Linked DNA regions of Homo sapiens. The protein of the gene in region 2 interacts with the protein of the main gene of each other region in a pairwise test. Each region holds a gene or a part of one and is shown on either strand. Other genes may lie near its edges.

Region 1 (3,649 bases), on a different chromosome or scaffold from region 2:
CCCCCATGCCCTCCCCACAGGCCCAGCAGGACTCCGGCAGCGGGGGGTCAGGACAGACACACGCGGGGATCTTGAGGTCCCGCCGGGGGGACGTCCCTCCCACCACCTTAACCCCTGAACTTCGCCCCTGAGAAGACGGAGGAGGAGGAGGAGGAGGCCAGGTTGTATCCCCTGGTCTCCCAACGAGTAGGAAATGGAGTGGGCGGCAAAAGCCCCGACAACAGGGGGCTGGCACCCCCAAAAGGAAAGGAGCCCTGGGGAAGGGGAGCGCTAGGCCTGACTCCTGAAATAGCCTCACGCCAGGAGGAGAGGGCTTAGCTCACAGTGACTCAGGGCACAGCAGGCGTGGACATCAGCCCGGGACAGACTCTCCTGGCAAAACCCCCACTCATTCTTATTTCCCCTGCCCCGCCCCCACCCTTAGACCCCCACTGGGCACCAGCCCAGGGTTGGGGGGGGCCAAGGCTGGTGTATGAAGCCAGCGGGGCTCCAGTTTGCTGGACTGGCGGGAAGGTGGTGATTGATTAATAAAAAATAATTGGGGCCGCCTGTAATCCCAGCACTTTGGGAGGTCGAGGCAGGCGGATCACGAGGTCAGGAGTTCGAGACCAACCTGACCAACATGGTGAAACCCTGTCTCTACTAAAAATACAAAAATTAGACAGGCGTGGTGATGCGCGCCTGTAATCCCAGCAATTCGGGAAGCTGAGGCATGAGAATCGCTTGAACCCCAGAGATGGAAGGTTGCAGTGAGCCAAGATCACGCCACTGCACTCCAGGCGACAGAGCAAGACTCTATCTCAAAAAACAAAGATAAAAAAGAGAGAATTGCATTTTCCAGCCCAGAATAGGGTCCCAAGGGGGTTCCTTGTGTGTTCTTTCCCAGGTTGAGGATGGGGGAGTGTGTCTGCCATGCGGTAGGAATGGAGGCTTCTCTGGGGTTCACAGAGCAAAGAGAGGTCCACCTGGGGGTCCTCCATGAGGGCGGGCTGCTCTCAGAGCAGAGAGACCCCCCCTGGGAAAGGACCCTCTTCTTTCTCCCTGAAGGCAGGTGTCCAGGCCACGGAGGACAGGAGGAGGGTGGAGAGGAGAGAGGGCTTCCCCTCCCAGGACCTGCCTGCCTGCCTGCCGGGCCCCCACACCCACTGCCCTTCAGTCATTCTGCCCCGTCCCCCCGTCACAGAAACACTCTGGTCACTCAGCCACCTGCAGCCCACCCCCCACACCCACCAGCTCCAGACCACACCCACACCTCCCACCACCCCTACCTCCAAGGCGCCCCTCAGGCCTGGGCCTCACCCCTCCAGAGCCTCTTGCAGAAAACAAACCCTTGGGTGACCCCTTCTGGAGGTGGATGTCTGGGCCAAGAGCCTCCTTGGGTCACACTCAGCAGGCAACCCAGGCTGGCTGTCCCTCCCAGGGACCCCCCTGCCTCCACCCCAAGCTGGCTAGAGAAGGAGCCTGGGCTCAGGAGGGGAGAGGTGGGAAGGCAGACCCAGGCTTCTGGGCACTTGGCCCAGCTGGACCTTATGCAGATGGACAGCCTCCTTCTGAAGCCCAGAGCCTAGGCAGGAGCTGAGGCCACACCCCCGACTCCCAGCTGCAGGAGCTGGTTCAGGAATTAAGAATAGGGCACAGAATGACCTTGGTATCACTTCACCTCCCCCAGCCCAGCCAGCAAAGCCCCAGGCCCGGTCCAGGTCATCCTCGGCCACCCCCAACTGCAGCTGCCCTCCACAGGAGCCAGGGACAGGACAGGGTCGCGGCTCCATGAGGCTTGCTCCAACCTGGCCAGGTGGGAATCCTGCCCCACCTCTTGCTGACATGGGGCTGGGGTGGGGTGGAACCCTGTCCGCCCTCTACCTCAGCTCTGCTCCATCCAGCACACAGGGCCCCCCCGGACACCACTGCAGGTCTGAGCACACCTGACCCCACCTCCGCAAAAGTTAGGGAAGCCTCTGCTGCCGGAGGCGCGGGAAAGCCAGTGTCTCCCGCGAACACTGATGGCCCACGGCCCTGCTCAGTGTCCAGGATTCCCTTCCGCAGCGCCTCCCGGCGACTGGGGGACCTTGGCGGCAGCCGGCTCAAACCCTCGGAAGTGAGTCCCTGGGCCCGACAGGTCGCCTGCCTGGAGGGGCGGGGCCGAGGCAAGGATAACGGCTGCACCGAGGAGGGAGCGGGCGCAGAGGAGGCACCGGGGCCCCGCGCAAAACTGGCCACGACCCGGACTCGAACCCCGACCCTAGGAGAGGCGCAGTGCCCGGGTGGCCCTGTCCGGCGCGCACGTGTGCAACGTGTCCCGTCTCATCAAGTGAGGAGAGGAGAGGAGAGGAGAGGGGACCAGGGCGTGGGGCAGCCGCTCTGAGTGCAGGGGGCGGACCCCGCGATGGTGCAAACCTTCCCCACCCGCCCAGTCCAGGCTCCTAGCCGGAGCAGCGGTCTTGGGTCCTCCCGGGACCATCCCCACAACCGCACCCAACGCCTGGCCGGGGCAGCGACTCCGACTCCCCAGACCCCGCGACCCGCCGCGGGAGGGACCCCGGGTCTTTCCCGGGCCCCCACCCCGGCCCCCGGACTCACCCAGAAGAGCAGGTTGAAGGCGAACATGAGGTACTTGACGGCCTGGAGGCAGGCGCGCGCCATGCCGCAGCGCTTCAGTTCTAGGAGGAAGATGAAGGAGAGGTCCAGGTAGAAAACCACGTACTTGTTGCCCTTGGGCGACGTGTAGCGCGCCTGGGCCGCCTTGGGGCCGGGGTTCGCGTGCAGGCCGAAGAAGGAGCCCCCGGCGTCCCCGCCGCCCGCGCGCCCGTATAGGCTGCTGTAGCGCCGGAAGGGGCCGCCGCGCGCGAAGTCCGGCTCCTTGCCCTCCGGAGAGGGGCTGCGCCGGTACGTGGACTCGTCCGTGCTGGAGCGGCGCATCGCGCCCGGGTGTGCCGGGGCCGCCGCTCAGCGCCCCGCACCCGCCGCCCCGGAACGCCCCATCCCGCCGGCCGGCGCCTGCTCCGGCCCCGCTCCTGCTCCCGCTCTGGCCCCCGCGGTGGCAGCGGGTCGCGCGGATCCGCTCGGACCCCGGCGGCGGAACCCAAACATCTGCCCGGCCCGCGCGCTGCGGCCCCCGCGCCCCCGACCCCGCGCGCCCCGCCCCGCGCCCTCCCGGCCAATCCCCGGCGGCTCCGCCCCCGCGCGGACCCCTCCCCTCCTCGCCGCACCGCCCGGCAAACCCCAGCGCTCCGCCTGGGCGGACCAATCGCAGCCCCCGGCAACGCACCAGCCGCGACCCCGGCCCCTTCGCCCGCGCCGGCGCCCCAGCCCCCCCACCTTCGCGCGCGGGAGGAAGATGCTCGCGAAGGGCGCCTGAGGGGACTGGAGGCCGGGGCCGGGGCCTGGGGATGAAACCTGGGCAGCTCTTAGCCCGCGACCGACACCCCCAGCCCTTCCCCCCACGGTACCTCGCCCGGACTCTGGCCCCGGGCCGGGCTTGGAGACCTCCAACCACGAGAACGATACTCAAAGCACTACGCAAATGGAGGGTGACCCCGTTGCTGTCTGGTGGCAACTTGAAGCGGCTCCGCCCCGGGCGCCCTTGGGGAAGCCCTGAGTGCCGGCGGCGGGTGGGGGGCTGGGTCAGCCTGCACTGCATGGAGCAGGT
Region 2 (3,319 bases):
ATTTCATTTCCTTTGGGTGTATATCTGGAAAAGGGATTGCTGGCTCATATGGTAGTTCTCTTTTTAATTTCTTTAGGAACCTCCATGACGTTTTCTATAATGGCTGCACCAAACTGTGTTCCCACCAACTGTGTACAAGGGTTCCGTCTTCTCCACACTCTCACCAATGCTTGTTATTTCTTGTCTTTTTGATATAGCCATCTGATATGGTTTGGTTGTGTCTCCACCCAAATTTCACCTTGAATTGTAATAATCTCCACATGCAAAGGGCAGGGCCAGGTGGAGACAATTGCTTTATGGGGGCAGTTTTCCCCATACCTTTTTTTTTTTTTTTACTTTATTAAAATACTGAGTTTTATTTCACGTGTATACTTTTGTCTCCCCACCATTTCCATGTCTGACCACTGCTACTACTATGTCCTATCATAGCATCCCATACATACTTAAAACCAAGCAAAGGGTGGAGTTCCATCTTTAAAAACTAAACAGGCATTTTGGACAACACATTCTTGGCAATAGAACCTGGACAACATTTATCAAACATGGTAGGGAAAGTTCTCACTCTGCACTATAAAAAGGACAGCCAGATATCAACTGTTACAGAAATGAAATAAGATGGAAAATTTTTAACAAATTGTTTAAACTATTTTCTTAAAGAGACTTCCTCCACTGCCAGAGATCTTGAATAGCCTCTTGGTCAGTCATCCAGAAGAAATTCTTCACATAATTGATGAACTTGGTTTCCACTTTGGGAAGAGAACCACGTTTTTCTATACTTGCTTGCATTTTTGCTTTAATGTCTTCTACAGAACTAGATCCTTTTGGTGTTTTAGGAGATTTTTCCTGTTTTTTGAAGGATTCTTGTCCTTTTGATCTTGGTGTTGATGATGGTTTTGAGTCTTTTCCATTCTGATTTGACTTTTGTGCATTTTTGGCTGGAGTATCTCGTATAGATTTCTTCACTGGCGCTTTTTCTTCAGCTTCCTCGTCATCATCATCATCATCATCTTCATCATCATCATCATCAGCAGCAGCAGCAAGTTTTACTTTTTTCTGCCCACCTCCAGGGGCAGACTGCTTTCCAGATATACTTAAGAGTTTCACATCCTCCTCTTCTTCATCTTCTGACTCTGCACCTTCCTTCACAGCTACTAAGTGCTGTCCACTAATATGCACTGGCCCTGAACCACACTTCAACCTTAAGTCCACTGGTGGTGTTATTTCAAAGCCCCCAAGAGAAACCGTTGGCTGTACAGACATTTTCAAAGTTGCCAGTGTTACTTTAATTGGACTGCCTTCGTCATTCATGGCCTCTGCTTCAACAATGTGCAGTTCATCCTTTGCACCAGCCCCTGAGCTGACCGTTCTTAAAGATAACTGGTCTCATTTTCATCATTATCCACCTTAAAGTGATCATCTTTGTCGGCCTTTAGTTCACAACTGAAAAGATAGTTCTGGGGCCTCAGGGGGCTCATGTCCATGTCCATCGAATCTTCCATCGGGTGGCGACACACACTTAGGTAGGAGACAAGGCAGACGAAGATAAATGAATGCTGCTCCAGAGAACAGCCGCGCAGGACGGAATCACACCAGGGAGCCCCATACTGTTCTTGTCTCAAGATATCTGATGGTTGTATAAATAGGAGTTCCTGTGCACAAGTCCCCCTGCCTGCCACCACATAAGACATGACTTTGCTTCCCATTTGCCTTCTGTCATGATTGCAAGACCTCCCCAGCCATGTGGAACTATGAGTCAATTAAATCTCTTTTATTTATAAATTACTCAGTCTCGGGTATGTCATTAGCAGTGGGAGAACAGGTAATATTAGCACCATGAAAACAGGTAATATTTTACTATGATTTTGATTTGTATTTTCCCAGTTATTAGTGATATTGAGCATATTTTCATATACCTGTTGGTATAAGAAATAAATTCTTTGCTCATTTTAAAATGGAGTTATCAGTTCCAATATGCTTCTAAAGATTAGTTGGGGCTTTGCTGTAACATCTAGACATGTATATCTGATTTGGAACAAATCCACTTCCTCTCTGTGTAGTGCCTGGCACTACTGGCACCTTTGTCATTCAAATAGGCACACTCTCCTGCTCCCAGGATAGGAAACCTGCAAGAGAAGAAGCAGAATCAGTTGGCCACTGAACATTTCTTCAACAGCAGAGAGAATGAAGATGAGAAAATGAGAAAACTAACATTAATTCAGCCTCTAAAAATAATGCTGTTTTTCCTTGTGTAGTGGTGACTAATTAGTCAGTGGGCTTTGCTTAGCAGGAGATGTTATAAATCAACTATAGGAATACTGCAAAGTCCTGAATCAAACCTATTTCATGTCTGTAAGCATAATATTCTTTCAAGTACATCCAAAGCCTTAGCTGGCTGATGGGAGAAGTCTGACACGTTTTCTTTACACAGTTTCCCAATATTTTGCTTCCTTAAATAACTGAAGACTCAGCAGCTATTTCTAAAAACCATGCTTGATTTTATTCCTCCTACTTCCCTGGTGGTTTTAGTACTGAAACTGCAGTGCTATTTAGCTGAGTTTAGATGGCTTGGCACAGATATTTTAGGTCAGCATTTGGATTATAAATTTTTCCTCTTTGCTCATTGGAATCACTATCATCTATGATATAATTTGCTAATTGTTGAAACTTGTTAGACCTTAATCATATAATATTTTACATTTCTTTAAGTGATGAGCAGTTTCCAAAAACTGGTTAGTTAATAATATATTTGATCCTTAAAATATTTTGAGAGGCCAGGCATGGTGGCTCACACCTGTAATTCCAACATTTTGGGAGGCCGAGGTGGGAGGATTGCTTGAGCTCAGGAGTTCAAGATCAGCCCAGGCAACATAGTGAGACCCCATCGCTGAAAAAAAAAAAAAAAAAAAAAAAAAAGCCAAGCAAGGTGGCACACACCTGTAGTCCCAGCTACTCAGGAGGCTGAGATGGGAGGCTCACTTGAGCCAGGGAAGTCAAGGCTGCAGTGAGCCACGATGGTACTACTGCACTCCAGCCTGGGTAACAGAGTAAGACCCTGTCTCTCAAAAATACAAACAAACAAAAAACCATTTTAAGAATTAGGTAGAGAAAATTTACTACTTCCGTATTGTAAAATAAGAAATAAAAGTTAATTCTAGATATTTATGAAGCAGTCACAATGTGCAAGGCAGTGTAGATACAACAATGTATAAATGTACATGTTCTCTGATTTCTAAAACTTACCATCCCATCCAAGGTCAAAAGCTAATGAGAAAAAACTCATTTCAAACCTGCCAATGTCCAGTCTGGGGCTCTTTTTATT

The links.
Region 1: the proteins of CLEC2D (region 2) and TSPAN4 interact in binary tests that used the Homo sapiens proteins (3 or more experiments, as listed by UniProt).

What each region holds. Positions count from the first base shown.
Region 1 is NC_000011.10:849,299-852,947, reverse strand, and holds part of TSPAN4 (tetraspanin-4), read right to left. Parts: intron 3,093-3,649; exon of another isoform or gene 2,920-3,092; coding exon of another isoform or gene 2,644-2,919; coding exon 2,581-2,643; intron 1-2,580. UniProt on the Homo sapiens protein: Structural component of specialized membrane microdomains known as tetraspanin-enriched microdomains (TERMs), which act as platforms for receptor clustering and signaling.
Region 2 is NC_000012.12:9,693,564-9,696,882, reverse strand, and holds part of CLEC2D (C-type lectin domain family 2 member D), read right to left. Parts: intron 2,124-3,319; coding exon 2,009-2,123; 3' UTR 1-2,008. UniProt on the Homo sapiens protein: Receptor for KLRB1 that protects target cells against natural killer cell-mediated lysis. Inhibits osteoclast formation. Inhibits bone resorption. Modulates the release of interferon-gamma. Binds high molecular weight sulfated glycosaminoglycans.